3 separate regions of the Homo sapiens genome follow, and all the other regions are linked to region 3. The links come from fine-mapping of genetic effects on gene expression. A gene starts in region 3. Each other region holds a variant in brackets. All regions are shown on one strand. Distances are from middle to middle.

Region 1 (9,971 bases), 42 kb before region 3:
GAGGGTTTGGGGACTTCATTATTTAAAGGGGAAAGAATGGGCAATAGGGGAAAAAGGCGGGGCAGGGGATAAGGAAAAGGGGTATTTTGCAACCACTGTGACCAGCCTTTGAGGCTTTCATCAACCTTCACTGAATCCACATTTTACATGTAAAAAGCGTAGGTAGAGAAACAGTCAATTGTACATTCATGTCCAGCTCCGCAGATCTGCATTTTTACATAAAGTAAACATAGAGTTGAAGAAGGAGTCATGTGTGCCTTTGTCTCAGGTGAGCAGATGGAGGACTCCTAGTCCTATCTTTGTCCCGCATTTGTAAAGGTAAGCTGTTCATTTACATTGTCAGGGTGAAATTTAACAGAACTGTTTTAGAGTAAAGATCTTGGGGCCCACAAGGAATTTCTCTGCAAGCAAATTGGGAGGGAGACAGTTTTGCATGTCTCAGTTCCCAGGCTTGACTTTTTCCTTTGGCATATGAGTTTGGGGAGATTTTATTTTCCTTCCACAGATGCTAGATAGGTAGATAGGGACTGATTGATAGAGGACAGAAAGAAAGCTAGGTAGGTAGATAGATAGGTAAATAGACAAAATAGGTGGTATCCGCTGCTCAAAAGAAAGGAAAAAAGATCTCCCCCTGCCCCACCCACCCCATGCTGTTTACTCTGAGGCCCTGCAGGACACCTGCTGGAGGCCTCCCATGCAGCTCCCAGGCCTCCAGTATCTCATTGTTTAGTTAACATTTCTTATCACATGAAAAATGTGTTTCAGGATCATGGGAGTGACTTTCCAGGTGGGGAAATGCAAAGTAGCTTCCAAATGGTGAAATGCCTAAGCATCTGTCATTTGCCAGTACTTCCAGGTGACTTGTGTGGACTGGAGAAAGTCCAGAGTCAGGGGGGTGTGGCTGCGGGGTGGGCAGGGTCAGAGACAGGGGTCAGAGGTGGGGGTTCCAGAAGTGCTTCAGACCTGGTTTCTTGAAGCTTGGCAGAAAAGAAATTGGAGGCCGGGTGCTGTGGTGCACACCTATAATCCCAGCACTTTGGGAGGCTGAGGTGGGAGGATCACTTGAGGTCAGGAGTTCAAGACCAGCCTGGCCAACATGGTGAAACCCCATCTCTACTAAAAATACAACAAAAAATTAGCCAGGTGTGGTGGTGGGTGCTTGTAATCCCAGTTACTTGGGAGGCTGAGGCAGGAGAATCCCTTGAACCCAGGAGGCGGAGGTAGCAGTGAGCCGAGATCACGCCACAGCACTCCAGCCTGGGTGGGGGGAGAGGAGGGGGAAGAAATTGGAAACACCTTCTTCCCTTTCTTCCTATAAAACAGCACCTGGAACTGGCCTTGCCTGGAAGAGCTGGTGTTCCTTCCACTCCCTGGAGTCCGAACACCATAGGCAGTGAGCATTCCTTGCATTTACAGGAGCAATCACAGCTTCCCGTTTGTGGAAGATGTCAGAGCAGGATCTTTTTTTTTAAATTGGATTTTTAAGTTAAAATTTAATAATCAAACTATACAATCAGCATAGTTTAAAACTCAAAAAGGACTGCCTGGATTAAAACAAAAATCATGGGTTTCCCCCCTTCACCCCCCAGCAACATTCCTAATTCTCAGAGGTTACTGCTTCCAACTCTTGCAGCTGCTTTGTATTTTTGGGGCATCTACCTCCACATATTTAAATGACACGCTTACTCTGGAGCAGGATCTACTAAAGCCTAAACCAGCTGTTAATTTCTCATGAATGCTTCTTAAAACTTCCTGCCAAGGCCACCGCTGGCTTTCTACATTTTACAAGCAAAGGAGCATGCCTGGCTAAATACCCCACACACCACATGCCTTGGCCACACCTGCAGCCTGAGTTTGTCCCAGGCTCTGAGACCAGTTGTTGTCCTGCTTAGGGGGATGGAGGGTTGGGGAGATTTATGAAGCCCTGGGCCAAGCATCAGCTGCTTTGAACTCACCTGCCTTGCTGCCACCCTGCTCTTTCTCTGCCCCCCGGTGTATTCACAGCATCCTTGCTGCAGGTGATAAAATTTGATAACAGTAACAGTTCTCAGGTTCTACTCTACCAACACCATCCTGAGTACTTTCATGTGCACATTCACTGGATCCTCACCATGGCTTTTAGAGATGCAGGCAGTTTCACCCTCCTCATCTTGCAGATAAAGAAACTGAATGTATTAGTCTGTTTTCACACTGCTACAAAGGTACTACCTGAGACTGTGTAATTTACAAAGGAAGGAGGTTTAATTGACTCACAGTTCTGCATGGCTGGGGGGACCTCAAGAAACTTACAATTATGGTGGAACGTGAAGGGGAAGAAAGACACATCTTACATGGTGGCAGGAGAGAGCAAGAGTGAGGAAGTGCCACACTTTAAAACCACCAGCTCTCATGAGAACTCACTCACTATCACAAAAACAGCCTGGGGGAAACCACCCCCATGATCCAATCACCTCCCACCAGGTCCCTCCCTCAACACATGGGGATTTTTTTTGGGTGGGGATACAGAGCTCAACCATATTATTATGCCCCTAGTCCCTCCTAAATCTCATGCCCTTTCACATTTCAAAACCAATCATGCTTCCCAACCATCCCCCAAAGTCTTAACTCATTCCAACATTAACTCAAAAGTCCAAATCCAAAGTCTCATCTGAGACAAGACAAGACCCTTCCACCTATGAGCCTGTAAAATCAAAAACAAGTTAGTTACTTCAAAGATACAATGGGGGAACAAGCATTGGGTAAATGTCCCCATTCCAAATGGAAGGAATTAGCCAAAACAAAGGGGCCACAGGCCCCATGCAAGTCCAACACCCAGCTGGTCAGTCATTAAATCTTAAAGCTCCAAAATCTCCTTCAATGCCATGTCTCATGTCCAGGTCACACTGGTGCAAGAGGTGGGCTTCCAATGCCTTGGGCAGCTCTGCATGGGTACAGTCCCTGCAGCTGTTTTCATGGGCTGGTGTTGAGTGTTTGCAGCTTTTCCAGGTGCACAGTGCAAGCTGTTAGTGTATCTACCTTTCTGGGATCTGGAGGATGGTGGCCCTCTTCTCATAGCTCCACTAGGCAGTACCCCAGTGGGACTCTGGGGGCTCCAACCCCACATTTCCCTTCTGCACTGCCCTAGCAGAGGTTCTCCATGAGAACTCCGCCCCTGCAGCAGACTTTTGCCTGAACATCAGGCATTTCCATACCTCCTCTGAAATCTAAGCAGAGGTTCCCAAAGTTCCACTCTTGTCTTCTGCACACTCTTAGGCCCAACACCACATGGAAGCAGCAAAGGCTTGGAGTTTGCACCCTCTGAAGCAATGGCCCAAGCTGTACTTTGGCCCCTTTTAGCCACATTGGAGTTGGAGTGGTTGGGATGCAGGGCACCAAATCCAGAGGCTGCACAGAATAGTGGGGTCCGTGGCCCAGCCCATGAAACCATTTTTCCCTCCTAGGCCTCCAGGCCTGTGATGGGAGGGGCTTCCGTGAAGATCTCTGAAATGCCCTGGAGACATTTTCCCCATTGTCTTGGCTACTAACATTCTGCTCCTTGTTACTTATGCAAATTTCTGCAGCGAGCTTGAATTCCTCCCCAGAAAATGGGCTTTTCTTTTCTACTCCATCGTCAGGCTGCAAATTTTCCAAACCTTTATACTCTGCTTCCTTTTTAAACATAAGTTGTACTTCCAAACCATCTCTTCATGAACAAATATGACTGAACACTTTCAGAATAAGCCAGGTCACCTTGTGAATGCTTTGCTGCTTAGACATTTCTTCCAACAGATACCCTAAATCATCTCTCTCAAGTTCGAAGTTCCACAGATCTCTAGGATGGGATAAAATGCCGCCAGTCTCTTTGTTAAAGCACAGCAAGAGTGATCTTTGTTCTAGTTCCCAAAAAGTTTCTCATCTTCATCTGAGACCTCCTCAGCCTGGACTTTATTGTCCATATTACTATCAGCATTTTGGTCAAAACCATTCGGCAAGTCTCTAGGAAGTTCCAAACTTTCACTCATCTGCCTGTCTTCTTCTGAGCCCTCCAAACTGTTCCAATCTCTGCCTATTACCCAGTTCCAAAGTTGCTTCCACATTTTCAGGTATCTTTATAGTAATACCCCACTCTGCTGGTACCAATTCTCCATATTAGTCCATTTTCACACTGCTATAAAGATACAACCTGAGACTGGGTAATTTATAAAGAAAGGTTTAAATGACTCACAGGTCCACATGGCTGGGGAGGCCTCAGGAAACTTACAATCATGGCAGAAGGCGAAGGGGAAGCAAGGTGTGTCTTACATGGCAGCAGGAGAGAGTGAGACCAAGGAGGTGCCACACTTTAATACTATCAGCTCTTGTGAGAACTCACCCACTATCACAAGAACAGCCTGGGGGAACCATGCCCCCATGATCCATTCACTTCCCAGCAGGTCTCTCCCTCAACACATGGGGATTACAATTCAAGATCAAATTTGGGTGGAGACCAGAGGCCTAGAAAACTTAAGTCACTGCCCAGTGTCACCCAGCCAGGCAGTGGCCAGTCTGAGATTCATTCCCAGGTGAGCTGGCCCCAGAACTTGTGATCTCAGCCACCTTGCACCATCCCATTGTCCTGGCCCCAGGGATGCTGCTTCGAATGTCCTTGTCCCCAGCCCTGGGAATGAGTTGATGGAAACAAGCATTACTGAACACTGAGTGTGCCGCCCTTGCCTCCTGCCCTCCATCTGTGCAGCTGGCATGTCTCTGCCCAGCATGACTTTGTCCTGTCCCCTGGCTGGCAAGGGTTCCACTTATAAGTGATCTTCCTTCTGGCCCCACGAGCAGGCAAAGCTGACACCCAGTTCTTTCTGAAGCAGCCAGCAGGGGCTCCTTTACTTTCTCACTGTGGTCAGGGAGGGACAGGAGCAGAGCAAGGGACTGTCTCAAGTACCTTTCTGGCTCAAGGAGCTGACATGCTGAGGAAAGAAGGCACTGCAGCCTAGGAAGCTATGCCAAGGCTTTTATCCCCAGCAGAGGGTCAGAGAGCTGGAAGAAGACAGGGGAGATTGAACAAGGCCTGCTACCCCTTTCCCACTTAAAAGAAGGAAAAACCTCTCTCTTGCTATCATCTCTCTTGCTTTTTCTCCCTGGTCTTTCGTGCAGCTCCGACAACACACAAAATCGTAAATCTCCACAAAGCAAGTCAGAGTGATTTTATTTAAACTTAAATCAGTTCACGTTGTTCTTCTGTTGAATGATGGCTTCAGCTCAGAATGTGTGAGTCTGCTTGGGCTGCCATGACAAAGTACCATGGCTCAGGTGGCTTAAACAGCATGAACCTACTGTCTGCCAGTTCTGGAGGCTGGAAGTCTGAGATCCAGGTGTGGGCAGGCTTGGTTCCTCCTGAGGGCTGGAGGGGAGTGGGGTCCAGGACCCTTCCCTAGCTTGTGGTGGTTCACC[G/A]GCCATCTTAGGCATCCCCCGGCCTCGAGAAGCACCACTGAGCTCTGGCTTGGTCTTCACATCATGTTCTCCCTGTACTTCTCTGTGTCCACACGTCCCCTTTTTATAAGGACACTGGTCATCATGGACTCAGGGCCCATCCTACTCCAGTATGACCTCATCTTAACTAATGACATTTGCAACGACCCTGTGTCAAAGTAAGGCCCCACCCTGAGGTCCTGGGGGTTAGGGCTTCAACAGAGGAGTCTGGGGAGGGAACATGATTCAGCCCGGAACACCCACGCGCATCCCATGAGCACCCCTCCCCCGCAGGCCCCCATCTGGTCTGCTCTCTCTCTCACGCCTTCTCTCCCTTCTCTCAGCCCTCTCTTATGAGCCCACATCCCCAGCACACGGTCTCTTGCTGTCCCTCAACAGTGTCAAGCATTCTCCTTTCCAGGGCCCCCTCAGCTGCTGCCTCCTCTGTCCCCAGTGTCCCTCTCCCAGGCTTGCAGCTCCTTCGCTTACTCACACAGCCTCCCATCAAATCCCAGCTTATCCAAGAGACCCTGGCCAGCCTTCCATACAGCACTGCTGTCCCCCTGCCCCACTTTCTCCTCCCCTCCAATCCCTGCCTGATGCATGTGCCTTGTCTGTGGTCAGAATTTCCCATGAGCTGCTCACTGCCCGGCACCTAGGACAGTGCAGCCCACGGTGGACGCTCAGGTGGGCAGCCCTAACTTCTGCAGAGCCTGTGACAGGAGCACATGTGAAGACCACACCACCCTCTTCCCCACTCTCCCCACATCCTGCCAGGTGAGGGGCTGCCTGCATGCACTGGAGCCTCCCCATTCACATGCCCGTCTGGGGGTGCACGTGCCTGCAAGTAGGCCCAAGGTCCGCCCTGGGAGACGACCCTGGGGAAGAGGCCTGTGCAGGCCCCAGTTTGGGGCAGGGAGTTCTGGAGTCCTGGGAACCCAGCACACGGCCAAGCAGGAGTGGGTGGGAGCTGGTTGACGTGCTCCTGTCTCCACAGCTTCCTGGCCCTGTGGGGACAGAGACGGCTGCAGGGGCCACCAAGGGAAACCTCTGAGGTGCTGGGCTGGGTGGTAAGCATGATCTGGGCTCAGCAGACAAAGGTTGGACGAATGAGTGGATGGTTACCCCTCCTGGCCTCAGCCACTTACACTACAGCTTCCCTAGAGGGCGAGGGTGCAAAGCCCTTGGGTCTCAGAGTTGCAGCTGTAGGCAGGTTCTGTCACAGCCAAGAGCAGTGGAGCCAAGAGCTGCCGATCTTGTTGGCTCTCCTGAAATGTACCATCATGACCTTGGTGCCCCAATCCCCCGGCCAGAATCCCTCCAAGATGTGATTCAACTATCCAGAAGGCTCTCTAGCACTGACTGCGACCGGGAGCACAGAGCTTTCATTCCCCTCAAGACACTGCACCTGAGACCCAGTGTGCAGGTAGCCCAGGTTCCAAGGAGAGCAAGCCCAAGAAGGAGGCTACCACAACGGGAGGGGCGGCTCTGCCTGGCCCTGCCCGGGACACTTTGCGGAAACCACCTACCTGCCATTCCCAGCAGGCCATCATTCCCTTCAGGGATGTGAGGATAACTGGATTTGATTTCAGTCTCTGGCCTCCTTCTCACCCTCCTTCTAGTTAAGTAAAACAACCATGCCCGTCCGAGTTGAGACACACAGCTCCCAGAAAGGAAGCCAGAGACCTGCTTGGCCAGTGCAGGGGCGTTAGAGGCCAGTCTCCAGCTATGGGGAGAACATTCCCTGATCCCAGATCTTTGGACTTGACCCTGGAAGTATGGAGGAATCACCTTCCTATTTTCCTAACCTTTAGCTTGCCCTCCAGTCTGCAGTGGCAGCCCCTTGGGCCCATCTACAGGCGCTTGCCTATGGGTCTCAGCCTCTAGTCAAGATATTGATTAATTTTTTGAAATGCTTCTAATGGCCAAGTTTAAGAAACACTGTACCCACCCCGAACTTTCTGAAGCTCACTGGATTTCTAATCAGCGTTTTGGCATCTGGTCAGTTTTGCAGGTTTGTCCTGTGTATCCTTTACTTACATGTTAGTGTACTGGGTGCTGAGCTCATAGAAGTGATACAGGGGTCCTTTGCTGCAGAAAGGGCACATAGTGGAGAGGACCGTGCATCAGACAGTGACAACACAGTGTGCTGAGTGCCATTGGAGAGGTGGTTGGGGGCCTCTCAGAGTGGAGGACCTGCCTCTCTGGGAAGGGCATGACAGAGACCCTTAGCCAAGTAGCAAAGAGTGAGCAGTTTTTTTTTTTTTGAGACGGAGTCTCACTCTTTCACCCAGGCCGGACGGCAGTGGCGCTATCTCGGCTCACTGCAAGCTCCGCCTCCTGGGTTCACGCCATTCTCCTGCCTCAGCCTCCTGAGTAGCTGGGACTACAGGTGCCCGCCACCACGCCTGGCTAATTCTTTGTATTTTTAGTAGAGATGGGGTTTCACCGTGTTAGCCAGGATGGTCTCGATCTCCTGACCTCGTGATCTGCCTGCCTCGGCCTCCCAAAGTGCTGGGATTACAGGCGTGAGCCACCGTGCCCGGCCGAGTGAGCAGTTTTGAAGGGCGAATTTGAAACAAATTCTAACAAGGGTCTTGTTTTACTCACCAAGTCACCAAGACTCAACTCACATAACTGGGGACCCAACTGCCCCCACCCTTCGTTGGTCCTTGCCTCAATTCTGGTCAGGTATCCCAATCCTGAGCCCTTGCTAGAGGCTGAGCGGACTGGGGTCCCTCCTGCCTGAGACCTCACAGACAGAACTCCTCTCCCCAGGCCAGCCACGCTGTGCATCTGCTGCTGCTGGTGCACACAGCACTTTGCACCCAGCTGCCAGGCGCTCACTACGCCAGCCTCATCTAGGTCCTGACAACCTGCAAACGTCTTGCTGGGGTAAAAAGCATATGTCACAGCTGGAAGGGGAGTTGGCCTAGCAGTGGAGGCTGGTGACCTACTTACTGGTGAGCAGTTAGGAATTCATAACTAATCCGAATCCCAGATTGGAGAGGGAGGCTGTGTTCTCATATTACTAAGGAGCTACACCACGATTGTTCAGATAACATCAAAGACAAAGGAATTAAGTGCCACGATAATAAACCAAGGAGGGTGATTTATATGTAAGGTATTTCCATTCAGGTTCTAAAAAGGTTTTCCCTAGAAACATTCATAACTTGGTAATAGAGTTATTTGCAAAATAAGTTAAATTGTAAAATAATGATCTTGAGTAGCACAAATGCATTTAGCATGGTTTGCTTCCTTAGTGCTGTTCCATTTGCAAAATTAATTAAAAAAAAAAAAGAGCAATGAGAAAACCTGAAGCAATGAAATCGGGTGGCGGGGGAGTCCTTGTCTTGCACAGACTACAGCAGGCCACTTCCCTTTGACACACAGTGGGTTATTTGTCCCCTTGTTCCTGGAATTCTCTAGGAAGTTCCCCACCAAGTATGGGTGGTCTTCTATTGAGCATCACAATCACTGACTTGTGGATAAATGTGGAGTATTTTTGGACAGTGATCAGCTTTACGATAGAAATCACAAACACACGTCCGGCCTTGCCAGACACTGAATAAACTAACAAATCGCCCTCCTTATTTTTCATTCTGATTCATCAGGGTCCCTTTCCTCCTCTCCTTTTTCTCTGTAAGAGGAATATATTCAACTACTCAGCCGGGACCTTTCAGGCCGGCCCGAATGCACCCCTCCTGCAGCAGAGGCGGGTGGGCCCCATGCGAGGGGCTGAGCACACTCATCCCAGGGAGGGCAGCCCCGTCCTGCGGAAGCCCCCAGCACTGTGGGGCGAGCGCTCCTTACTGTCAACACACGGGCAGGAGAAAGTGAGATGGGAGCACCAGTGCCCTCTGCAAATGGGCACTCGACCATCACAGCATCCAAACTGGCACTGTGGTCAACAGGAGGCAGAAAGGCCCCTTCAGCCTAGGCCACGGTGGGGTGGGGTGGGGCTGGAAGGAACCCTGGAATCCCCTTCGTAATGTGTATCCCTAAGGAATTGCCTCTCACATGATGTGTCAGTTCTTGGGTTCTCCTGGAGGCAGCCACGCCCGCTTCACAATCACCAGATGCATAATGAATAATGGGCATTTGGGGTGAGGTGGAACACAAGGCAATGCATAGGACGTCCTTTCTGATACTCATGCCTCCGCCCCCTTGTTTGTCTTTATTTAATGCCTAATTGTAGCAGCTGCAGGGATATGCCCATGATGCCGTTCATAGAACCATGATGTCACTAGCTGCTCCCATCAAAATGATATTTTGCAATTAGCCCCTAGTGATCATGGATGCTCAAGTTAAGCAACCCGGTGTTCTAGCCAGCACCCATTTCCTCAGACTGCTTAGACTGCAAAGCTGAACCACAGGCTGCACAGGGCCATCACGCACAGAAGACCCCATGAAGTTATCCTGCTTCCAGCAGCATGGACACAACCACATCTTTGGGGGTAGTCCAGTCCCTTTTGTCAAAAATGGCCTTGTCTAGACAAGTTTCAGCAAAGGCTGGGGTGGCAGGGCCCCTG
Region 2 (9,971 bases), 980 kb after region 3:
TGGCAACAGGATCCCTAGCGGGGCTTAAAGTGAGATTCACGGCTGACACCCAGAGGCTATGAAATAATCAGCATTTTCAAAAACATCCCTTTTCCTGTATACTGTTCTCAAGTTAATGTTAGGCCCTGGAGTCATGCTGGAGCTGGAGATGGGATTCACAGACCCATTAATGAACACTTTGCACCAAAATAGTTAGGTCCCTTGCTCCTGGCACCTGTCCTGGTGAGAAAGGGAAGCACAGTTGCCCGCTGCCTGGCCTCACCTCCTGCCTCAGAAGTCAGAGAACTTAGGAAGAAAGTGCAGTGAGCCATGTAGATGCTTCATAAGTAAACTAATGAGCATAGGCTAAAATATTTCATTTTCTATTTGAATAAATGTATGCGGTACAAGGGCAATTTTGTTACATGCATAGATTGCCTAGTGGTTAAGTCAGGGCTCTAGGGTACCCATCACCCAAATTATGTACATTGTACCCATAAGTAATTTTTCATCATCCACCCCCTCTCACTCTCTCACCTTTCCAAATCTCCATCGTCTATCATTCCTCTCTCTACGTCCATGTGAACACATTTTTTAACACCCACTTAGGAGTGAGAACACACGATATTTGATGTTCTGTGTCTGGCTTGTTTCACTTCGGATAATGACTTCCAATTCTATCCATGTTGCTGCAAATGACAAGATCTCATTCTTTCATTCTTTTTATGCATTTGTATTTTATGCATTTTATGTATTTCATTGTGTATATATGCCAAATTCTCTTTATCCAATCACCCACTGATTCCATATCTTTGCTGTTGGAAATAGTGCTGTGATAAACATACAAGTGCAGGCTTTTGATACATTGATTTCTTTTCCTTTGGGTAGATTTCCAGTAGTGGGATTGCTGGATCAAATGGAGGTTCTATTTTTAGTTCTTTGAGAAATCCCCATACTGTTTTCCACAGAGGTTGTACTAATTTAAATTTCCACCGGCAGTGTATAAGGGTCTTCTTTTCTCTACAATACATCTTCATCAAAATCTGTTATTTTTTGTCTTTTAGATAATAGCCATTCTGACTGGGGTACAATGATATCTCATTGTGCTTTTAATGTGCATTTCTCTGATGATTAGTAAGTTGAGCCCTTTTTCATATACCTGTTGTCCATGTGTATGTCTTCTTTTGCAAAATGTTTTCTCATATTAAAACATTTCTTTGTTTTTTGTTGTTGTTGTTGTTGTTATTGTTGTTTTGTTGTCTTTTGAAATTGAGTCTCTCTCTGTTGCTAGGCCTGGAGTGCAGTGGTGCGATCTCAGCTCACTGCAACCTTGCCTCCCAGGTTCAAGCAATCCTCCTGTCTCAGCCTCCCGAGTAGCTGGGACTACAGGCATGTGCCACCACGCCCAGCTAATTTTTTGTATTTTTAGTGGAGACGGGGTTTCACCATGTTAGCCAGGATGGTCTTGATCTCTTGACCTCGTGATCTGCCAGCCTCAGCCTCCCAAAGTGCTGGGATTACAGGCGTGAGCCACCACACCCGGCCTAAAATATTTCTTAAATTCCTCCATAGGATTTTGAATTTCTTGAAGAAAATTACTATATAGATTGGTATTATTGATTCCTTTTATTATAATACTAAGCTAGACTTAAAGAAACTGGCAGAAAAAGCACTGGTTAGCAAATCATAAAGTTGACAAAATTAAGTGTGGGTATAAGAATTTAAATTCATGCTTCCGCCCTTCTGCTAATTATCTCCAGGTTTTTCTAGGGATTCTTATTACGGAAGTTAAGCAAACGGAAGCATCCACTAAAGTGCAGATAAACCAACTTTCTCTCTTAAAATCTATGTGAAAAGATCTGCTTATGAGGTGGCTGATGAAACCACATCTCTTGCCAGATTTTTACTAGGCTTATTTTCACATTTTTTGAGGACCTGCACATAGGCTTGCATTTATTTTCCTGACTTAAGAAAAAAAGACCAGTAAAATGGTCCGATTAAGGAATAATGTTAATTTTTAAAGGTTGTTGGGTTTATTTTAAATGATATCATATTTCGGCATATTTGTTATTGTTGTTGTTTTCAGTCAAGCTCAAACTCTGAGGTGATGCTGAGCTAAACATCCAGGGAGAGACTCACACCTCCCACTCTTGAGACCACGGGAAGGCCAGCCCCGCACCCGCACATGCTGCCCTCCCCATTCTAGTCCCAGACACCCCAATCATGGTTCTCTCCTGCTGCTTTGACTCACTTGACCCTGTTTAGTGTGTGAGCTTTGGAGATGGTGACTTGAGGAGTATGGCTGCAAGAAATACCATGTTGCAAACATAAACATGTACCTCTTTAAGAAAAAAAAAAATCCCCGTCAACTCAGAACCACAAAAACAGCCACAGCTCTTCAGAGAAAGATGACACATTAGTTTGGAGTGGGTGTGAGGAGGGTACTCCGTATCATAACTTGCCTGCCAATGCTTAAACAGCTGGCTTTTCTAGCTTTTCACTTTTGAGCCCTGAAAATAGAGTACTATCTAGATGGTCTCCTTGCTATTACTATTAATACGACTATTTATTTAAAAAGGATGTCCCACTCCCAATTAGAATTTTACAATCTTTGTTTGTAAATTTAAAAAAATGCTAGCTCCACTGTTTGGGCATGCGGAGGGAAACCTATTATAGGCCTAGGAAAAATGCATGTGATCACACAGTGAATACAGATCTGAATGCAGGACTGCCACGGACAAGACAAAACAACTGATGCTTCGGTGGGTTGTTGTTGATGATGTTTATCAACCGCATTGTCGAAGATGCTTGTTCTTATGTTTTGAAACCAGATCAACAGCATTCATGATCCAAGTGATGTGGTCAATTTGAAGGACATGGGAAAAGGCTTCCCTGCCTGAAGTTACTCTTGGACCAGTAAGCCCTGTCCCTCAACTTGCTGCTTCGAGACCTTTGCATGAGGTTGTAGCCATCTTCTAAATGTGTATTTATTCTTCCTTTAAAGAACAAGACATTGGCGGCCGGGTGCGGTGGCTCACGCCTATAATCCCAGCACTTTGGGAGGCCAAGGCAGGCTGATCACGAGGTCAGGAGTTCGAGACCAGCCTGGCCAATATGGTGAAACCCCATCTCTACTTAAAAATACAAAGATTAGCCAGGCGTGGTGGCGCACGCCTGTAGTCCCAGCTACTCAGGAGTCTGAGGCAGGAGAATTGCTTGAACCCAGGAGGCAGAGGTTGCAGTGAGCTGAGATTACACCACTGCACTCCAGCCTGGATAACAGAGTGAGACTCCATCTCAAAAAAAAAAAAAAAAGAACAAGACATTGGCATACTAGTATACTAGTCTTACAATTCTCAAAATTACAATTGACTGGAATCCATCAAATGAGGCGATGGGGTCAGGTTGTAGAGGAAAGAGGAGACGCAGCCCAATATTACGGGTTTCACAGAGGGCCCGTGTACCCTATAGGTACCATATGGTCACCACTCTCAGTAACAGCTTATTTGCTTTTTCCTAAACCTTATAACCAGTTTCATTTGTTTCTTACTCTTGAGTTCAGGTAGTGCTAGTTCATCATAGACTGGCATAGCAACAGGCTAAGACATCAACTGCCATTTTCTTTATCTGCCTCTAAAATCCTATGTCGTGAGGTCTAGTGGCTGTGATTAACAGTCAGAGCTGGAGATTTATGCATGGAATCTGAAGCCAAATGAGCAGTCAATTTGTTTTCAGGAGTCTGTCTCTTGAGATTTGTATCTCTGGATATTGTCCCACTGAATTCTTCTTAGAGAAGAATCCTTCTTCCTAGGTAGACTAACATAGCTGGAGATGAGAAGCCAAGCTCTCATCATCACAGCTGCTATATAATGCCCTAAACACTCACCACCTGGGAAACAAAGATGGGGCCATATTCATTCCGAAATCATACAGTTACACTTGACTAAACTCTTCCAGTTGAAAGGCTTCATAGTCACTTACAGATCTAAGGAACCAGATGAAACATACTCCAGGTGAGCCCCTGCCCCTCTGGCAGGCAGAAGGGCAAGACATCTTACAGAAGCACATCTCTCCTTCATGCTCCAATAAGCCACACAAATGAGCACACTTATGCCAAAGCAACCCTCTAGAACAATTTCCATTTGGTAACTACTAGAGTTGACAAATGCCATCAACAAAACAAAAGTAAATTCTACTGAGCAGCAATAAATCAAGAAAATTCTAGAGACAGACAGTCAATTAAAAGAGACAGGCTTCAGTTCATTTGCAAAGTGAGACCGGGCAGC[G/T]TAATTACCGCTCTGCACTGGTGGAACGCCTCCATTGCAAAACCACAGCTGATAACCAGCATGTTCGTTATTTTCCCATTTACAGAATAATAAAGGAAATAACTCAGTCAAATGACTTCGTGTAATTGTCACAAGTCATCCTGTTGGTGATTCTCTTCTTTTTCTTAGTCCGCTAAATCATTGTATGATTTCTACTGGGGAATTTTTTTCTTAAAGAAGCACAACTGAAAGTCCCTGCTTTTGTGATGAATGGGAGCTACAGAATTATCTTCTGAGGCTTAGCATACAATACGATCACATAAAATTCTCTCAGCTCGAGAAACTTCATCTTTACATCAGCAGCAACAGAAGGAAAAAAAAATGTTTTCCGCCTGAGGCAGTTGTGATAAGGGATTTAGAACCCATCCTGGTGTCAGCATCCAGATATAATGGGATACAGCCCAGCACCTAAAGTGTCTGCAGCTCGCTCCCTTGTAACTAATGTTCTCACAGCTGTTGTATGACTCAGGGTGGCTGGAGAGGAAGGGGAAGAGGGAAAAAGGAGCAAAATGAATCATAGAAAATGTTGCATGTAATATTTTGTCTAACCTACATTTGCCACGGCTGCTGCAGAACTGTCAGTAAAGTGAGATAAGGACATTGAGCAAGTCTCAAAAATGACTGCATGCTAGAACTGAGCATCTGAGAAATTCCATGAGGGGTTTTACTTTTATTAATCATGTGTCTGAAGCTAACAGGTTCATACCATGTTAGCAAATTAAACTATCATACAATCTTGACGACGCTTCCTCGAATCATTAAAAAGTCTTCTCATTTAATTAATGACAAATTTGTTATCTACCTACTGGGGTTTCCATTGATACAGCAATTAATTTTTCTTTAAGATTTCCTAACTCCTAGCCAAATGCATCAAAAACACTCAAGCTATAATGGTTTATCTTGAGTTTAAAAAAACCATCTAAGATTGAACATTCACCATTAATTAATTAAACTGTCTTTTTAAAACTGTAACAGGTGCCATGAAATGTGCACACTGTGAAGCACATTGACATATCTGGGGATAATGGGTGCACAGGCTCATAGAGCACCATGGATATAACCTACACAAGACACTGCCTTCCTTAGCTCAGTCTCTTCCTTAGCTCAGGCCACGTAAAAATCACAGCTGAATGTCTTTCTGCCAACTTAAAGAAAGAGGAACCCTCTTTTCTCAGTCACTGGGCACCTTGCCAAGTCTCAGACCTTCTTAAATATTGGTTGATTTCTCAATTGATCTCAGTGGGCAGAGTGATCTTATCATTGCTTTACAGCAGAGAAACTTTGGGTTGAATTGCGCAAACCACAGTGGAACCTGTTTAATGAACCCTTTTCTTTTAAGTGATAATCAATCTCCTGTCTATTTTCTATTCTATTAGTGAAAGTCATGGTCATCTTTTTCTTCAGGCTATCTTTCAAAAACACCACCGCATTTGATTAAGTGTTGAATTATCAATGGCAAAGAAAATGATGACAGGCAACTAAGACCCCATGGATTCCATCCTTGTAGTGCTACCCAGATTCTTCCCATGCAGCTAAGTCCTGGGAAGAGGGCCCTCACCAGACAAGCCCACAGGGCTTCACTTCTAATCTTCCTTCTTCTTCTTTTCTGTCCATGCCATTCTCTAGGGCAATATTTTTGCTTTCTCCAAGGAAAACACCAGAAAGAAAGAAACAAGTCATCATGATCAGTGGCCATCAGAGAAATGCAAATCAAAACCACAATGAGATACCATCTCATACCAGTTAGAATGGCGATCATTAAAAAGTCAGGAAACAACAGGTGCTGGAGAAGGTATGGAGAAATAGGAACACTTTTACACTGTTGGTGGGACTGTAAACTAGTTCAACCATTGTGGAAGACAGTGTGGCAATTCCTCAGGGATCTAGAACTAGAAATACCATTTGACCCAGCCATCTCATTACTGGGTATATACCCAAAGGATTATAAATCTTGCTGCTATAAAGACACATGCACACGTATGTTTATTGCAGCACTATTCACAATAGCAAAGACTTGGGACCAACCCAAACGTCCATCAATGGTAGACTGGATTAAGAAAATGTGGCACATATACACTATGGAATACTATGCAGCCATAAAAAAGGATGAGCTCATGTCCTTTGTAGGCACATGGATGAAGCTGGAAACCATCATTCTCAGCAAACTATCGCAAAGACGAAAAACCAAACATGGTATGTTCTCACTCATGGGTGGGAATTGAACAATGAGAACACTTGGACACAGGAAGGGGAACATCACACACCGGGGCCTGTCATGGGGTGGGGGGAGAGGGGAGGGATAGCATTAGGAGATATACCTAATGTAAATGACGAGTTAATGGGTGCAGCACACCAACATGGCACTGGTATACATATGTAACAAACCTGCAAGTTGTGCACACGTACCCTAGAACTTAAAGTATAATAAAAAAAAAAAAAAGAAAGAAAGAAAGAAACAAGTATATTGGAGTATCTTCACCCCAAAATGCTGTCTCTGAGGTCAAGACGATTTTCTTTTGAGCTCCACTGAGGGTCAAGAGGAGGGGCCTTGGAGCTCCCCAAATCTCAGAAGTGATGGGAAATCCTCCCCAGCACCTGAGCTCTGGAGCCTGGGAACTTTGAGCTCTGTCAATCTCAAAAACTCCAGAACAAGCCAGATCCATTCTGAGAGCAGCAGTGTGCTCTAGGATCCCTGCCACTTGACTGTAGGAACCACTGAAGGCTCTAAATCTTCTGTCACAGCCATTAGCAAGAACTCAATTACCTCATTTCTTTTTCTTCCCACCCTCTGCAGCAGGTGCTAACAGCTGGCCAAAGGGCAGACAGCAAAAAAAAAAAAAAAAAAAAAAAAACCGCTGAGTGTTTGGATAATCAGGAGGTTTGGCAGATCCTTAATGGAGGGTATTAGCTACAAGCAAACATCTCTCTGCTCCCCACAATTTCACCAGGAAGATAAGGTATTCTCTTCTGTTTTTATAAAATAAAACTTGTTTTTTAATGTAGAGTTTCTTGGTTTCATAATTTCCATGGTGCCATAATTCCTACTAGTACATACTAGTGATCATTGATTAATCCCTTATTATATATAAGAAATAGTTTTTATCTTATTCTACTGTTATCCCATTGTTATGACAGAAAATCAAGTCTTTAAGAGCTGCATTAACCTGGTAAAGGCCCACAGCTCAGAAATGGCCACCCTTGAATCTAGACTATCTGATTCCAGAGCTGGTACTTGAAAATAACAATCCTCAGGAGAGGGGTTACTCATGAGGCCCCTTCATGAGCCCCTCCCTAGATGAAGCTTCCAGATCGACCACAGGGAGTTGGCGGTGGACAACACTGCTGCCAACCTCAGGGGTCTTCATTACATAGGGAAACAGAAACAGGTTTTTGTGTGTGTGTGAGAGGGCTTTTTGTTTTTGTTTTTGCTTTTTTTTTTTTTTTTTTGAGACGGAGTCTCGCTCTGTCGCCCAGGCTGGAGTGCAGTGGCGGGATCTCGGCTCACTGCAAGCTCCGCCTCCCGGGTTCACGCCATTCTCCTGCCTCAGCCTCCCTTGTTTTTGCTTTAAAAGTGATGCCTCAAGAGGAAGGACACCTTTTATATTAATTACTGTGACTGGTACGTCTGCTCAGGGTACCGAGAAGGGAAGAGTTGCCTCCGCCTCCCATGTTGTGGTCCAGATGTGAAGAGGCCAGTTCCAATTCGGGGTTGGCGGCTTCTTTTCTTGTTTTGAAGGAAAGGCTTTCCTAACACAGGGAGCTGGAATTCTAGAAGATGGAACTCTGCTTTCTCTCTCCGAAGAACTGCATGCAGATTTTTTGAATTGATCTGAGTACTCTGGAAACTAAATTCCATCACAAGTGAACATTTCCTGGGAAAGTTATTTCTGAGTTAAAATTCATTACATGGGTTCTTATAGAATGGAAAGTATTATAATGACCAATAGGCCAATGCAGAAAAGTTAATTATAAATTATATCATTTACATTTTACATTGTAAAGTGTTACTTAGTTTTATATACATATCAGTTAATACTTAATTGAGTGTCTAGAATAGTGAACTACTATGGTGTTGAGTCTAATCCCCATCAAAGTGTTACTAATGTTTTTCCTACCTTTGTTTTCCTTCCTTTTTTACTCTTTTTAATTCACGCCATTTTGTTATATTTTATGCAGTTTTTCTCTGCGTATGTTTAGCTTATGCATTATTATTTTAAGCATACTTAAGATTTTTCTGATGAGATAAGGTAAAAGTTAAATGCAAAAATCAATGATTATCAAATTAATGATTTCACTTAACTTTGTAGAATTAAGCGCTTTATATTTTCTTACAGTTTGCATTTCAAACTGATAAGGTAATGTAAATCATTGTTTCTCTTGTAAAATTGGTCAAAATAGTCAAATAGCTTCAAAGTTCAAAAGTGTATAAATCCGACAGTGAATATTTTATGGAGACTGCTATGGTTTAATATTAGAACATAAGTAAATGAATATTTTTTCAACACTCTCTAATTTAAACTGTGTGCACTCATCAGTAAGAAAATTATGAAACTCCAATATTTGTTTCACAAGTGGTATACATGTATTACTACATACATATAAAACATTTTTGAAGATAAAATATAAATGGATGAAATTGAAGCATAAAATAGAAATTATAATATGTTCTTCCCACACTCCAGTAAACTGTTTTGTGTGCACCTGTTTTGGAAACAATTGCTCCAATTTTTGACCCCGGTTCCCGTCTTCATTAGATTGAGAGCAGTTGGCAGTTTACAGTCTCTTTTGGCCATGACACACAGGCTCTGGGAGCCTTGGGTGAGGGAACAGACCTTGGTCTTTCAGGTGCTGCTCACCCTGCTGGCCACCTCTGGACATTCATTAGCAGGGTGAGTTCACCTGGCTATCATTCCACATCAGGCTGTCCTATTGAAATTTTAATAATTAAAAAGTAAACATTAGTTTTTAAAAAGAGAACTGGATCATCTTTGTAAAAATACATCAATCTCTAAATTTCAAAGCAAATTTCAGATAAGACCATTGAGTTCTTGACAGTTCCTTCTAAAGCTAAGAAGGGCCTCCAAGGAGGTATCCAACTACTTTCTTCTATGTTCAAAACAGAGTTAAAAGATTTTTTGTTTGTCTTTTCTGATGATAAAAGTGTGATGCACACTGGAAGCAAACACTTGAGGAACACACTAGAGGACAAGGACACAAACATCAGCTATAATCCACTAAGTGCTCGAGAGTTTGTGGTAAAGGTTCACTAGAGGACAAGGACGCAAGCATCACTTATAATCTACCAAGTGCTCAAGAGTTCGTGGTAAAGGTTTTATGTTGAACTTCAGGAAAAAAAGTAGAGTTAGAATGAAGAGATTCTAGAAAGAAGAGAAATGTTCACATTAGTCATGCATACAAGAGATTCCATCAGTTAAATGGAACCACTACACCCATCCTCAGGGGGAGGGCTTGGCCCACTTGGTCCAGAGACATGAGTTTGCCATCAGGCAATAATGAATTCCTCCTGTACAATGGTTAGAGATATAAGATCCATTTCAACAGGAACCCATCTATAAAGTAAAGCCTTCTGAATATTTCATTTGACCCTTTAAAAAAGATAACAGATAATATGTAATAATTGAGAAAATAAAAACTAAAGCAAGGTTT
Region 3 (9,971 bases):
GTAAGCACCAACAGGTGCTACCTAATATAGTAATACTCATCACTGACGTCATGGAGCCAGACACTGTTCTAGCACACTTTGGAAGCATTTTCTTGGTTAAGTCCTCACAACCATCCTCTGAGGCAATTACCATCCTTATGCATATTTTACAGATGGAGAAACTGAGGTACATGGTGGTTAGGTATTTTACCCAAGGCTATACCCCTCATAAGGTCCATACCTTTCAACAGGGGACTTTACCTGTCACCATGACTTTTTAAAATATGAGCCTTGTTCCCAATATGGATTTAAGTAAGTGGCATCATGACTACCCAACAATGGAAAGAGAGAGAAAACTCCTAGCATGTCTGCAAGTGAGCTATTTTGAGATACTACAGAGTTGCAAATCATGCTATTTCTAAGACTACCCACTCTTTTAAGCCTCCTTGACATAAAATATGATCCATTATTCTTATTTAATGTATCTATCTTCACACTTCACATTAAAATAATGGCACCTGGCTTTCTGGAACATGAACAGCAACACAACAGGATTCTGGCTACAGTAAGCCACAGTGAGCATGCAGCTGGTAGAACTGTGTAGAACATAAAATGATGACATTCTAATCCAGCCCTGGCCATCAGTAACAACTGCTTTAGGAAAGTCACTAAAGAATCTGTTTCATGCAAGTAATGGCATTGCCGAATGTGTAAGCTGCTACTTCTTTTCTGAAGGGCAATTTCAATGCGCCTGCCACAGCACCCTGTAGTTCATGACTAGGAATTCATCCTCAGGAAACATCAACAATACAAATGTGTGAAAGAGGACATTCACTGCAACATTCTTTATAATAGCAAAACACTGAAAACAACCTAAATGTTGATTGTAAGGGAATGTTAACTCATGGCACCATGTATATAATAGCACATAAATACACAGAAATACCATGCAACCATTAAAAAATATACTGCTTATATGTATTTATTAGCATGGAAAATAGACCACAATGTATGAAAATAATATATGGAAAAAGCAGGTTAATAGCAGAAACCATTCCATTATGTTTTTTTTAAAGAATGGTCAAGTACGTGTCTACAGAAAAAAAAAATGTCAAGAAGAATACAGAACAAAGATTTACAATGTTGATTTCTGATGTTCAAATTCCCTGTGATTGTCACTTTCTTCCTTAAACTTTTCTTGTTTTTTTTAATTCTTATACTGAATGGGTCTTACTCTTATCCTAACAAAAATTGCCGTTTATATTTTGAAAAAGATAAAATGGAGCAACGGTAACTATTCCTGTTCACAAAGGGTATACTGTGGGGACTGTATGTTGTGTAGAACATAGTAGAGCAATAAATAGGAAGCATTTGGGCAAAGTCCCTTTTGGCTTCTTCAGCTCTAGGAATCTTCTTTCAGTTAATTTTTTCTTCATTAGTTAAGCTGCTACCCCAATGCTGTCTGGATAAGAAATGACCTCTGCTTCAGGAGACCTCGAGATGATAGCTGTATACCAGGCACAAACAGATCAGAAAGCTCTGGAATTATTTTGGTTCTGGTTCTCCCCTAAGCAGATCCTCAGATAAAGATTCAAGTGCAGGTAGTTTAACCTGGGCAGTGACAACATGATGGACTGGCAGGGAAGAAATTCAGAAAGGGAAGGGAAGGACACCAGCATGAGGTGCACTGTCAAGCAAGTTCCACTGGGGGCAGCTGGAGCTTCAACCCCCTGGGGAATCCTAAGGGACAAGTCAGGGCAAGTGGCTCAGTTATCCTGTCTGAGGAGTGAGAAAGTAGGGAATTTATCAACTAACTTTCACCAATCACAGGTTGAAGGCTAATCCCAGGGCACAGGAATTCCCTGGCTCTTCTGGCCTGCTCTGTTTGCAGGCCAAGTGGGCTCCAGGGACCAGAGAAAGCCCTCCAAGATGAGTCATGGGTACAGACAGTTGGAAATCGGAAAAAATGCTAAGTGCCAGGGGCACTAAGAGGATATGCAACAAAAAGTGACCTCTTTGAGAGGAGACTTTACCTGATGGTCTGAACATATTGAGAAAACAGAAAGAAACTAGGCAAATAAAAACACCTGACAATAACTCCTAATGGGGAAAAAAGTTATGTGTAAAAGGAAAAAAAAAAAATTAGAGGGCATGGTGGTGCATGCCTGTAGTACTAGCTACTAGGGAGGCTGAGGTGGGAAGATGGTTTGAGCCTGGAAGGTGGAGGTTGCAGTGAGCCAAGATTGTGCCACTGCACTCCAACCTGGGCAACAGAGAGAGGCCCTGTCTCAATAAGAAGAGGGAAAAAAAAGATGGGTAAGGTGGCTCACACTTATAATCCCAGTATTTTGGGAGGCCCAGATGGGAGGATCACTTGAGGCTAGGAGTTGGAGATCAGCCTGGGCAACATAACAAGAGACAGGTCTCTACAAAAAAAAAAAAATACCCGGGTGTGGTGGCATGCGCTTGTAGATCCAGCTATTCAGGAGGTTGAAGTGGGAGGATCACTTAAGCCCAGGAGTTTGAGAATGCAGTGAGCTATAACTGTTTCACTGCACTCCAGCCTGGGTGACAAAGCAAGATCCTGTCTCTAAAATAAATAAATAAATGGAAAAGAAATCATAGATTACTATGTGGCTCTGTTGTGATTGTCTTTACATGGCCATAATACTGTAAACATTGACTAATGAAAATTACGCTGTAACTACATTAAGAAGAGAAGGAGAAAAGACAAAGGTGCGTGGGTTTGAGGACAGGTTTAAGAGAGCTACACTGTAGAATTATTTGAGTCTTTCAACTACGTGTAGGTAAGACTTTGATAAAGCAGAAACAAGAACCACCATCAATACAATCACGGTAACAGGACACCTCCATTAATAAAACACACAGTTGTCTTGGGGTCAGCCTGCTGAGTATCAAACTGCATTCCAAGTTTCAAATAAAGGATTGACAAACCAACTTTCAGAAAACAGTTCTTTGCAATACTTAGGAGTGACTTTAGATAGCAGGCATTTCTCAAACCACCCTCCTCCTCCTCACCCCCTGCTCCCCAACTCCCCCATCCAATGCCTGACAAAATCCCAAAGTCTGCAATATTAGCTGTAGCCTTTGCTACTTACAACTAAACATAATCATTAAAATAAAGTGAAAGAGAATTCTAGATCCAGGGTTACAGCCTTTGATATCTGAACCCACACTAAACTTCAAAATTAGATTTGCCTTGCAAAGGAGCTGAAGAAATCACTTTCTCCACTCTTAGCCCATCTATCTTTTTTTAGCCTATCTGATGCAGCCTACCTGTCCTTTTTAGTAATGCTTGATACATGGGTAGCGCCTTGGTTTAAAAGCACCTCCTCCTACACCTCTCATCTGACCTCAACGCTATCCTGCTTCTCAGATGAGAACTCCACAGGCCACAGGGTTGAGGGATCTGACAGACATCAGGAGGGGACAGCGACAGGAACAAGCAAGAGTGTCTGAGAAGGGCTCCTGTAGGTACCAAAGCTTCTCCACCTCTGGCCTCAGCTGTGGAGGGAATTCGTGGGGATGGAGATGGGGATGGGGGTGGGGGGATGAACTTAGATGGGAAAGAAAGGTTACAACTTCAGTTTCGCTGTCCTCCAACTAAAATTTACCATTTTTTTTTTGCACGATCAATGTAGCAAAGACCCACAGTAAGGAAATACCTGTGACTATCAACAGAAATTAGACATCTCCACTTCACATCGCGGTTGCCGCAGATCTCTTGAAATACCATTTGTGCAGACCACAACGTCAACACTACAGTAGGAGTTACCGCTGCCGCTGGCCCCTGCGGTTTCTGCCCTTCATCAAGAAGCCAGTCTAGGACCCCCTCACAAGTGTGTTCTAATCCTTTAGGCCCTGTGTCTTTTAAATCACGTTTTCCGGGAAGGAGTACAAACTCTTCAGACTACCAAGCCCGCCATTTAAATTGGGAACTTCAGAGGCCGGAGCCCTGGAGCCGGAGACCCTCCCCGACAGCACAAGGTCGCCCGCAGCCCGCGCGCCCCCACCCCCTCGACCTCTTGGAGGTGGGGATCCCCTCAGGGTTACCTGGGGGCCCCGTTAGGAACACGTGCCGGGCCATACTGGTGGGCGGGGGTAGGGGTTGCGGTCAGGGGAGCAGTCCAGGTTGGGGTCGCAATTCAGGTCAGGTCCGGACCAGGGTCGCGACTCAGGACCCGCCCACCGCGTGTCGCAGGCCCCGCCCCCAAGCGGTGCTTTGACCGGAAGCACCGCCCTCAAGACCACGCATGCGCCTTCTCCCGAGTCCCCGGTCCGCGCCTGCGCATTCAGCCCTCGGCATTGGCGCCTGTGCCGCGGCAGTTCCTATAGGCGGAGCGGGTTGTACGGTCTCTTAAGTTTCATTCTGGGTTCAGGGCTTTTGTGGGGTATTTGCAGAGATAAGTGCGTGAGAACGTCAGTTATTAAACTATTGCTGCTTCAAGTCAGCGCCATCACCCAAGTTCTGCCCCTTGACTCCGGACCTAGGAGCTGAAATTGCCCAAGGCTGCCGGGACAGCCCTTTTGTAGAAGGTTTGTGACCTGGAAGCATTCCTCAAAGGGGGATGCCATGTTAATGACTCCAACTTTGTTCTCAAACATTCCTGCAGAATAGAATCAGCTGGGGAGTTTTAAACTTGCTCTGATGCCTGGGTTTCACCTGCAGTAATAGGGAGTGTCAGAAGACAAAATTACAAGTTTAGTTTAAAGATCTAATTGGCTTATATTTAGGATCTAGAATCGAGAAATAGATCATTTCATAAAGCAAATAGAGTGTTCCAATGAGTTGTGCAGAGGAGGTTGGCTTTATGGGCAAAAAAAGGCTGAAGAACAAAACAAAGAGTGGGTATTTCAAAGTTACTTTCCTTATAGGGTTAAAACAGATTGGACTTCGTTATTGTACTGACTCAGGTTAACTACAATCTCCTGTTTTTTGGGAAAACGGGCCTGTTTCAAAGTTCAGTTTGGTTACATGGCACTTGGCACAAGTGACTCCATTCTGGTTTGGTCTAGTCTGCTAGGACCTAGTGCAGGAGGTTAGTCCAAAACAATGGCCTCCCATAAATCTTGTTTAACATGAGTAATTGGTCTTGAGCGAGTCTTGAGCACCTGTATTCTTTTTTCTTCTTTCTAAACTCCAGGAAGTTCCTGAAGTGCGCTAGGGTTGAGAACCACTGGTGTAGGCAGGCTTCCCGTCCTCAGCCATGCATAGGACGCCCAGTTTTCCCTCTTTACTTTCACACCAAAGTGTATAAAGATCTCCTCTTGCAAAGAATTAAATAGCTTCTCCGTCTCACTTTACCACTGCAAGTGTTCCGGCCAACGAATGACGTGGCAGTGGCCTTGGGCCACATTTACCTGTAAACTCTTTCAGTCTAACATGTGTACAGCTTAATTTGTAGTCAGTCGTTCCCCATCCTGGCTGAGAAAGCAGTTCAGTGAGTGCTCAACTTAATTGGTTTCTGCCCACACATGGACCTCTTGGTTTCCCTTTAGCCTGAGACATATGCCAGTCCAATGATTATCTAAAAAAACAAAGTTGGATTTGTAAAATATAGCTGTCATCACCATCATTTCTGCAACATTTGTAATGCTCTATTATTATAACAGTATACTATTTATTATCCCAACTGTTAATGTAGGGCCTTCCACCTTGATTTATTTTGCAGTCCATATATGTTGAATACAGTGAAAAGTTGATATAGTAAAGTAAATTCATAGGAGGAGCTTCCAAAAAAAAGGAAAAAAGTATATGTATCTCTTGTATCAAAAGTACTCGTTTTAAATGTTAATCAGATAGCATTTTCCATCACTGAAAAGCAGTTTGGATTTGCAAGGCTCACCGGAAGTTGGGTTCTTTTGTTTTGTTGCTGTGCCTGGAATTCTGGCATCAGTTTAAGTAGCTCAAAGATACATGGAATTCAGATATGGTGAATCAACGTCTCACAAAACAGAAAAAAAGACTCCATAGTTGAATGTACTTTATCCATGGAAAATGAATTATTTGGATGGTAGTTCCACGGATATCTTCTTGTTAGAAAATTCATTGATTTGATGCTTAATTTCTACAGTTTCCTGTATGTGTTATTAGGTAACAATAACAAAAAATTAAATAGCTTATATCTCTTAGAGATTAACAACAAAAGAAGATGGCATAAATTGAAACAAATTTTAAAATAAATGGGATCTTAAAGTACTGTACCATACTGAATCCAACTTTTGCTTCCTATCTAATCAACATCCAATGGACGGATGTTTGTGTCCCCCCAAAATTCATATTGTTGAAATCCTAACCCACAAGGTGAAGGTATTAAAGTGTGGGGCCTTAAAGAAGCAATTAGGTAATCAGGTCACTAGAGTGGAGTCCTCATGAATGTGATTAGTACCCTTAGAAAAAGGCGGGAGAAAACTTGCTTTCTATCTCTCTGCTCTCTGCCATGTGAAGATACGAGGAGAAGACTGCTCTCTGTCAACCAAGATGAGGGCCTTCCCCAAGAACCCAGTCGTGTTGGCACCCTGATCTTAAACTTCAGCCTCCAGAGTTGTAAGAAATAAATGTTTTTTTGTTTAAGCCACTCATCTGTGGTACTCTATTATAGTAGCCTGAGCTAACACACAAGGTAGAATTAATTACCTAAGGAACAGGTGATTCCAAAGATTTCTTCTGCAACACCTGGGTGCAGCCTCACTTATGACAGGATGCAGTACAGTTCTTTATTAAAACAGTTTGTAGGTACAACTCTACAGTCTCTACAATTATAAAATACCCTAAAGTCCAAAAAACACTGTTTATTTTGTTTTCATATCTACCCTTTTCCCAGAACTGTCCTAATTTTTAAACTGCAAATTCTGTGTCTTAGAAAGCCCCTCAATCCCGAGCAAACCAGGATGAATGGTCATCAAACTGTTAAAGGAACATTTGGGAAGTAAAGCAGAAGGTTTCATGTGGTTAAACAAGATAATTCCTTCTTACAAACAAGTCAAAGGCTAATAATACTTTATTGTAAGCTGGTTGTCTTGTCAGCGGTGGTTATAGAATGACTGTTTAATGCAGTCTGTACCTAAACTCTGAGCCATTCATACCCTGAGTTCTAATCTCTGTGCAGAACAATGTTCTATCCTGCCAGTAACCCAGTAGGACAGAAGCAGAGATGACTCTACACCCTCACCCCACCCCTTCCTACACCGCATGCCTGGATGTCCCCCACGCCCAGCTGCTACTGGCATCCTGTGGCATCTTCCTGGCTGGACACAGAACAAGAGTTCTGGCATATTTAGGGTACAGTTTCCTAAGTACAGGAAAACTGAAAACAGAACAAAGAAAAAGTATGGATGTGAAAATAACCAAGTGGGAAGAGAGACCATTGTGTTGTTTGGCCAGCCCACTGTTCATTTCACTGTATGGAAATAGCAGCTAAATTCTCCTTTTAGGAACCCCCTTTCTCCCAGGCTCTGTGATTGATAGGAGTGAACCTCCCTCCCTTTCTCATTATCCAAGGGGAATACATGACCCAAGCCTGGTCAACGAGATCATTCTATCTTCCCAGCCTCAGTGATTGACTCTGAGGAAGCATGTGACCCGGGCAACACATCTACCCCTAGCCAGTGGGGATCGAGGACAGCCACCAGCCACCATGACTGAAGCAGAGGGACAAGGGGAAGTGAGAGGGGGTGTGAGAGGCCTCCCCCGCATTCTCCCCAGTCACTCCTTGCTCATCCTCCAGGATGGGCTCAACTGTTACTGCTCCCCAAGGCTTTTGTGATTCTCCAGGCCCAGCCTCTGCTCCCTTGGCCTTCCCTTACAGCACCCCCTGATTGCTGGCATCTGCCTCTTCTCCTGCCACCCAGTTATGAACTCCTCCAAAGGTAAAAATCTAGGCTGGGTGCGGTGGCTTACACCTGTAATCCCAACACTTTCGGAGGCCAAGGTGGGCAGATCACTTGAGGTCAGGAGTTCATGACTGGCCTAGCCAACATGGTGAAACACCGTCTCTGCTAAAAATAGAAAAATTAGCTGGGTGTGGTGGCCCGGCACCTGTAATCCCAGCTACTCGGGAGGCTGAGGCAGGAGAATCGTTTGAACCCAGGAGGCAGAGGTTGCAGTGAGCCACTGCACTACAGCCTGGGCAACAGAGTGAGACTCCACCTCAAAAAAAAAAAAAAAGAATCTAAAAAATCTTGTGCTATTCATCTCTTTATACCCAGAATATAGCACGGTACTTACAACACATTCATCCATCACTGTGTACCAGGAAATGTACGTCCTGGAGATACAGCAGCAAAGAAGACAGTCTCTGTGCTGCTATAGCTTATATTCTGGTGGGAGACACAGACAGACAAGTACATAAATAAAATGCCACAGAGTAGTAAGGCCATGGAGGAAAAAATAAAAGGATGGGAAATGAAAAGGGAAGTGGATGTGCTACTCCATAGAAGGTGGTCAGGGAAGATATTACTGAGAATACAGCATCTGAGCAGAGAGTTGAAGGAAGCAAGCCCTGCCGGTGTCTGGGGGATGGCGGTCTAGAGAGAGGCATTGGCATGTGCAGAGGTCGTGACGTGGGAACACATGGCCTGAGAAGGAACCAAGCAAACCAGTGTGGCCGGAGCAGAGTAGGAGAGAGAGATGCACAGGAGGTGAGGTCAGAGGGGCTGCAGGTGGTTCAGGCCTTATAGGCCATGGTGAGGACTCTAGCTTTTACTGTAACAGCTGGAAAGCCATTGGAGGGTTTTGACCAGAAGAATGGCATTATGTAAATTCTTTTAAAAGGATCATCAGTCGTGTGTGTAGGAAATTGGCTACAGAAAGGCAATGGTAGAAGCAGGAAGACCAATCTGAATGCTGCTGTAATAATCCAGCTGCTACAGAAATAACGTTTGTGCATTTACTGGCACATGCTTATCATAGGTGCTCAACTGATATTTTCTTAAGCACATGAGTGAATAAGTGAATTATATCCCCATAGACAGCATGGGACTGTCAGGGAAGACAAAGAGCAGGGGCAGAGCAGCAGGAAAGTCCTACAGGCTTTCCCAGCTTTAAAGGACAGGTGGTACATTGAGGTAACCATCCGATAATCATCCTTGGGTGATGTCCCCATGAGATAGGCATAAGACTTTGCTTGACCAAGCAAGTTGGGCAGGTCACTCACCTACTAGGTGTTCCCCTTCGAATAAGAACAACGGAGCCAGGCGCAGTGGCTCACACCTGTAATCCCAGTGCTTTGGGAGGCCGAGGCAGGTGGATCACGAGGTCAAGAGATTGAGACCATCCTGGCCAACATGGTGAAACCCAGTCTCTACTAAAAATTCAAAAAGTAGCCAGGCATTGTGTCGCGTGCTTGTAATCCCAGCTACTCAGGAGGCTGAGGCAGGAGAATTGCTTGAACCCAGGAGGCAGCAGAGGTTGCAGTGAGCCAAGATGGCGCCACTGTACTGCAGCCTGGTGTTAGGGCGAGACTCTGTCTAAAATAATAATAATAATAAAAGAACAACTGTGTGTTAGTTAGTGCAACATACTAAATATTGGAACAGCCAAGCCCAAGATCACACCACTGTACTCCAGCCTGGTGTTAGAATGAGACTCCGTTAAAAAAAAAAACAAAAACAACAACAAAAAAAACTGTGTATTAGTTGGTGCAACATACTAAATATTGGAACAGCGGAGCCCCACTGGGAAGTCTCTGGTCACAATTCTGTGGTGCCACATCAAGCACACAGACATTGTCCTGTCAACCTCTCTTTACAAAGGTCACCTGAAGTTATAGAGCTAGACTAGGGAAGAGAAGACCAGCTGAAAGAATTGCTCTAAGGCATCCCCAGGGGTGCTGATGGGAGAAGCAGCAGTCTTACCTGTTTTGGGCAAACTTCTAGAATGGCATTCCAAATTTCTTGCCTTTCAATCTGTACATGCCATGCATAATTCCCAAGACTGTGAATATAATAGAAGATTCCTACTCTTGTGATTA

What was found. PIP is the estimated chance that this variant, and not a neighbour inherited with it, causes the effect.
Region 1: its variant is fine-mapped to the expression of NTPCR in whole blood (TOPMed, PIP above 0.99).
Region 2: its variant is fine-mapped to the expression of NTPCR in substantia nigra (GTEx, PIP above 0.99).

Annotation. Positions count from the first base shown.
Region 1 is chr1:232,987,189-232,997,159 of GRCh38, reverse strand. All of the region lies in intron 32 of PCNX2 (pecanex 2), which reads left to right. Among named protein-coding and RNA genes, the nearest start is that of NTPCR, 42 kb to the right of the region's middle. The variant G/A (reference allele first, on the strand shown) is at 5,422.
Region 2 is chr1:231,966,372-231,976,342 of GRCh38, reverse strand. The region is part of intron 10 of DISC1 (DISC1 scaffold protein); the gene reads right to left. The region is part of intron 13 of TSNAX-DISC1 (TSNAX-DISC1 readthrough (NMD candidate)); the gene reads right to left. Among named protein-coding and RNA genes, the nearest start is that of DISC1-IT1, 46 kb to the right of the region's middle. The variant G/T (reference allele first, on the strand shown) is at 4,266.
Region 3 is chr1:232,944,827-232,954,797 of GRCh38, reverse strand. It overlaps NTPCR (nucleoside-triphosphatase, cancer-related), which reads right to left and starts at 4,187. Exons shown (of 5, transcript NM_032324.3): 1 at 4,054-4,187. The coding sequence starts at 4,087. It overlaps LOC107985361 (a long non-coding RNA gene), which reads left to right and starts at 3,249. Exons shown (of 2, transcript XR_001738525.2): 1 at 3,249-3,470; 2 at 3,642-6,578. RefSeq lists enhancers at 1,599-1,808, 1,744-2,243, 3,372-3,911, 3,912-4,453, 4,366-4,465.